2 separate regions of the Homo sapiens genome follow, and region 1 is linked to region 2. The links come from fine-mapping of genetic effects on gene expression. A gene starts in region 2. The other region holds a variant in brackets. All regions are shown on one strand. Distances are between the middles of the regions.

What was found. PIP is the estimated chance that this variant, and not a neighbour inherited with it, causes the effect.
Region 1: its variant is the best candidate, but not a certain one, in a credible set for the expression of COG8 in whole blood (TOPMed, PIP 0.52).

What each region holds. Positions count from the first base shown.
Region 1 is chr16:69,297,686-69,300,705 of GRCh38, reverse strand. SNTB2 (syntrophin beta 2) reads right to left here. Exons shown (of 7, transcript NM_006750.4): 6 at 932-1,116. Among named protein-coding and RNA genes, the nearest start is that of VPS4A, 12 kb to the left of the region's middle. The variant T/G (reference allele first, on the strand shown) is at 1,739.
Region 2 is chr16:69,338,370-69,340,944 of GRCh38, reverse strand. COG8 (component of oligomeric golgi complex 8) reads left to right here and starts at 1,381. Exons shown (of 6, transcript NM_032382.5): 1 at 1,381-1,769. The coding sequence starts at 1,393. NIP7 (nucleolar pre-rRNA processing protein NIP7) reads right to left here and starts at 1,173. Exons shown (of 5, transcript NM_016101.5): 1 at 1,060-1,173; 2 at 853-939; 3 at 613-751. The coding sequence starts at 1,115. RefSeq lists enhancers at 795-874, 1,055-1,174 and silencers at 1,595-1,644, 1,655-1,704.

The DNA.
Region 1 (3,020 bases), 40 kb after region 2:
TAAAGCCACAGGCAAAAGTGCACTATGGAGTAAGGTTATTCCATGTCATAATACTGGTGTGAGGTTTCACATCCCCAATTAGGAGACAACTGGTGGTGTACTGGGTTTCACCATGCCTGGTAGGAAGAACTAAATAGTAGAGGATTTAAAATCTAAGGCCAGGCACGGTGGCTCACGCCCATAATCCCAGCACTTTGGGAGGCTGAGGCGGGCAGATCATGAGGTCAGGAGATTGGGACCATCCTGGCTAACACGGTGAAACCCCATCTCTACTAAAAATACGAAAAATTAGCCAGGCATGGTGGCACGTGCATGTAATCTCAGCTACTCGGGAGGCTGAGGCAGCAGAATTGCTTGAACCAGGGAGGCAGAGGTTGCAGTGAGCTGAGATGGTGCCACTGCACTCCAGCCTGGGCGACAAAGCGAGACTCCGTCTCAAAAAAGAAAAAAAAAAGAAAAATGACGGCAACAAAAACCAACACCCAATGCCATCTTGAAAACTGAAGAAGAGCAGATACAGTGGCTCACACCTGTAATCTCAACACCTTGGGAGGCCAAGATGGGAAGATCACTTGAAGCCAGGAGTTCAAGACCATCCTGGGCAGCAAAGCGAGACCTCATCTCTATAAAGAATATAAAAAATTGGCCAGGCATGGTGGCACACACCTATAGTCCAGTCCCAGTTACTCAGGAGGCTGAGGTGGGAGGATCACTTGAGCCCAGAAGGTATAGGCTGCAGGAAGCTATGATTGCACCACTACACTCCAGCCTGGGTGACAGAGACCCCATCTTTAAAAAAATTTTTTTTAATTTAAAATTTCATGGTTCTAAATGGAATGTCAGTCCATGACTTTGTATATAAGGGGTAAGAAGTAATGAGAAGGAAAGAGAACATCTATTAGATAAACATGTGTTTCAGAAACACTCTTACCAGTTCTCCCTCGGGACCACCAAAATCCAAGTATAGATTTCGGATGCCATCATCAGCAGACATCTTCAGCCTTTCAAAGGGGTAGCGGTACAATATGCTGCTGGAGCCTCCATTTTCCCTTGAGATGGTGAACCCATTTTCATAGTGAATAGTAAGCCTCACCTCTTGGCCATTTAACATGCAGCCTGTTGAAGAAAAGCAAAAAACATTAGTTGTAAAGTTGCTATGTCAGTTATCAAGTGAAAAGGGAATCTTCTGACTTCAAAATAGGAAAAATATTTTCTTGAGAATGTGTGATACCTAACCTGTATGGAAACTTCTAAAGTGTGTTTTGTGCTAGGCGTGGTGGCTCACGCCTGTAATCCCAGCACTTTGGGAGGCCGAGGCAGGCGGATCGCAAAGTCAGGGGTTTGAGACCAGCCTGACCAACATGGTGAAACCCCGTCTCTACTAAAAATATAAAAATTAGCTGGGTGTGGTGGCGGGTGCCTGTAATCCCAGCTACTCAGGAGGCTGAGGCAGGAGAATTGCTTGCACCCGGGAGGCGGACGTTGCAGTGAGCCAAGATTGCACCACTGCACTCCACCCTGGGCGACAGAGCAAGACTGTCTCAAAAAAAAAAAAAAAAGAAGTGTGTTTTGTTTTGGTCACTGAGATGAGGCAGAAATGACCATAACACTCCTTGACATCTGTTCGATTTAATTCCTCGAGTACCCACTGAACACTCATACTGGCAAGTGTGTGTAGGCTGTGCAAGGCACTAGAGAAGTAAGAGGCACAGTCCCTGCTCTCAAGGACTTTGTAAAC[T/G]CATTGGCATAGACAGGAAATCCCCAATTGTGTAAGGCAGAATGTACAGAACATGAGCAAACACCAAAGTGAATGAGGCCAAAGTCAAGAAAAGGTTTCCTGGAGGAGATGGGCCTTCAGATAGGCCCTAAAGAATTGGTAATACTGGCCGGGTACGGTGGCTCACACCTGTAATCCCAGCACTTTGGGAGGTCGAGGTGGGCGGATCACTTGAGGTCAGGAGTTAGAGACTAGCCTGGCCAACATGGCGAAACCCCGTCTCTACTAAAAATACAAAAATTAGCCAGCCATGGTGGCACATGCCTGTAATCCCAGCTACTTGGGAGGCTGAGGCAGGATAACTGCTTGCACCTGGGAGGCAGAGGTTGCAGTGAGATGAAATCACGCCACTGCACTCCAGCCTGGGTGACAAGAGCGAGACACTGTCTCAAAAAAAAAAAAAAAAAAAAAAAAAAGAATTGGTAAAACTGGACAGGCAGGGAGGAAGAGGCAGAAGGACTGAACTGGGCAAGAAGGACCAACCAAAGGAGCAAAGGCAGAGAGGCCTTTCAGGAGCCGTGACATGGTTTGGTTGGCATTTGGGATGAAGATAAAGATTATGTTCATCAAAGTTAAAGGCTATACTCAGCAAAAGTCACAGTCAACGCTATCAAAGATACAATTCAAAGGACACCTCTGAATTGACAGGATACAAACAATTTTGGTCATCAAGACTGGCAAATGCCCCAGGTGTGGTGGGTCATGCTTACAATCCCAGCACTCTGGGAGGCTAAGGCAGGAGGCAGGAGGATCACTTGAGGCCAGGCGCTAGAGAACAGCCTGGGTAACATGGCAAGATCTCATTTCTATAAAAATAAAAAATGTATCTGGGCATGGTGGTGTGTGCCTATAGTCCCAGCTACTCAGGAGGCTGGGGTGGGAGGATCACTTGCGTCCAGGAGTTCAAGGCTGCAGTGAGCTATGATCATGCCACTGCACTCTAGCCTGGGTGACAGAGCAATGTCTAAACAATTTTAAAAAGAGAGATTTAGAGATTCTTTTTTTTGTTTGTTTTGAGATGGAATCTCCTTCTGTCACCCAGGCTGGGGTGCAGTGGCGTGATCTCGGTTCATTGCAACCTCACCCTCCTGGGCTCAAGCAATTCTTCTGCCTCAGCCTGCTGAGTAGCTGGGATTACAGATGTACACCACCACGCCCGGCTAATTTTTTTGCATTTTTAGTAGAGACAGGGTTTCACCACGTTGGCCAGGTTGGTCTTGAACTCCTGACTGCAAGGGATCCA
Region 2 (2,575 bases):
GGCCAGGAGTTCGAGACCAGCCTGGCCAACACAGTGAAACACTGTCTCTACTAAAAACACACAAAAAAATCAGCCAGGTGTGGTGGCACATGCCTGTAATCCCAGCTACTGAGGCACAAGAATCACTGGAAACTGGAAAGTGGAGGCTGCAGTGAGATCGCACCACTGCACTCTAGCCTGGGCGACAGAGTGAAACTGTGTCAGGAAGAAAGAGAAAGAGAAATGAAAAGAAAAAACAGAGCAAGAAAGAAAAAGAAAAAAATAGAAAAAGTTATTTTCTCAACTCTACAAGGATCATCCTCCATGGCCAGGTTAACAGCTCTTTTTCTGGACCCCGGTGTCTTCATTGCTGCCACTTATTTGCTTTCTGATCTCTAGCTGGGTCTCCCTAGGCTCTTCTACTTCGCTGGAGAAAACTAACCCTACGCAGCCACATAGCATTCCTATCCCATAGCCCTGACCATGCTCAAGCTGCAAGACCTCTACACATCTCCATGTGCTGAAACTCCTCCAAGCACACTGTCAGGGACTCTGTGGGAGAGAAGCTGCCGGACAATCTGCCTAATCCTTGACTTCATCGCCCGTGGCAGAATTGGAAACCGCCCCACAAACCTTGGCATAAGGTGCAAGGTAATCCAGAGCTGTGACGTGCAACCGAAACTTGTGGGTTTTAGTGAATTTTCCAAAGCAGGTCCCCAGCGACACCAGCTTGTCCCCGGAAATATTGGCGGCCAGCTTCATAATCTTCTCACTAAAAGGGTAAAGGGGGAGCAAGGTTGCGGATGAAGGAGGCTCGTGGGACCCAGGACCCCTCTCCCCTGGGTCCATGCTGCCTGCCCGGCCCCGCCTCACCTCACATAGTACACCCGGTCGTTGTGCAGACGGAAACAGTAGGTGCCATCGGGCCGGTCCACCAGCAGTTGAAGATTCTCCCCAATGCTGAGGGCAAAAAGAGGACTGGAGACCGCGCCCGAACGAACCGGTCTCCGGCACCGCGCCCCCACTCCACCCTTGGCCACCACACCCACACACTCCCGCGTCCGCCCCGCGCGCTCCTACTATTTCGCTATCTTCTCAAACATGACACGGGTCTCCTCTTCAGTCAAAGGCCGCATTTTTCCCCCTGGGTTGGAACACCGGATCCTCGTGCCTTGGTAACTGGAAACGGAAGTCGGTCGCTCGCTGCTCCCCGGCAATCCCAAAGCCTTCCTCTCTAGCCCCGTACCAATAGTTCGTCTCGCTAGCGCCCAATAGTCTGGACGACCGCAGGGGAAAGCAAGCCGGCCGGATGAGAAAGCATAGAGACCGGAAATGTGCCTGTTTCTTCCTGTCCTAAGTTCGGAGTCAGCGCCCCTTGTGGTCCGGAAGGGAAGTGACGTTGTTGCTGGGAAGATGGCGACCGCGGCGACTATCCCATCGGTAGCCACGGCCACAGCAGCGGCTCTCGGCGAGGTGGAGGATGAAGGGCTCCTGGCGTCGCTGTTCCGGGACCGCTTCCCCGAGGCCCAGTGGCGCGAGCGGCCCGATGTGGGCCGCTACCTCCGGGAGTTGAGCGGCTCGGGGCTGGAGCGGCTGCGGCGCGAGCCCGAGCGCCTGGCGGAGGAGCGGGCGCAGCTGCTGCAGCAGACGCGCGACTTGGCCTTCGCTAACTACAAGACCTTCATCCGCGGCGCCGAGTGCACCGAGCGCATCCACCGCCTGTTTGGCGACGTGGAGGCGTCGCTCGGCCGCCTGCTCGACCGTTTGCCCAGCTTCCAGCAGAGCTGCAGGTGCGACGCGCCTGGCGCTAAAGGGGTTTTATAACTGTAAAAGCTGACATTTACGATGGTAGAAATAACTAACACATAAAGCGTTTACCACGTTCCAGGTTCTCTGCTGAGCGCTTTATTAATCCATTTAAACCTCACAACAGCCTTCGAGATAGGTACTGTTATTCCTTTTTTATCTTTTTTGAGACGGAGTCTCGCCCTGTCGCCAGGCTGGAGTGCAGTGGCGAGATCTCGGCTCGCTGCAACCTACCTCTGCCTCCTGGGTTCAAGCGATTCTCCTGCCTCAGCCTCCTGAGTAGCAGGGACCATAGGCGCGCGCCACCACGCCCAGCTAATTTTTTTGGATTTTTAGTAGAGACGGGGTTTCAGCATGTTGGCTGGGATGGTCTCGATCTTTTGATGTCGTGATCTGTCCGCCTCGGCCTCCCAAAGCGCTGGGATTACAGGCATAATCCACTGCGCCCAGCCCTGTTATTTCCATTTTACATATGAGCAAGTCAAGACAGAGATTAGTGACGTCCAAGGACACAGCTAGGAGGTTTCGAATTCAGAACTGGTTACCCAGAAGCACGTCCCTCCCTCGAAGGGCAGTTGTGGGCACAAAGAAAAAGGATTCATGCAAAGCTCTTATTATCGGGTCTGACACAGTTAACATTATAGGTGTGAGCTGAATATATGTGCACATTTATATACTTATTTTATACGAAAGCGTGGACCGGAGGTCATCTGCTTCAAAACTTCCATTGACGGGAAGGTGACAAGGAAATCCTCGCATTTGAGGGCATCAGATATCAAAAAGTCTCTCC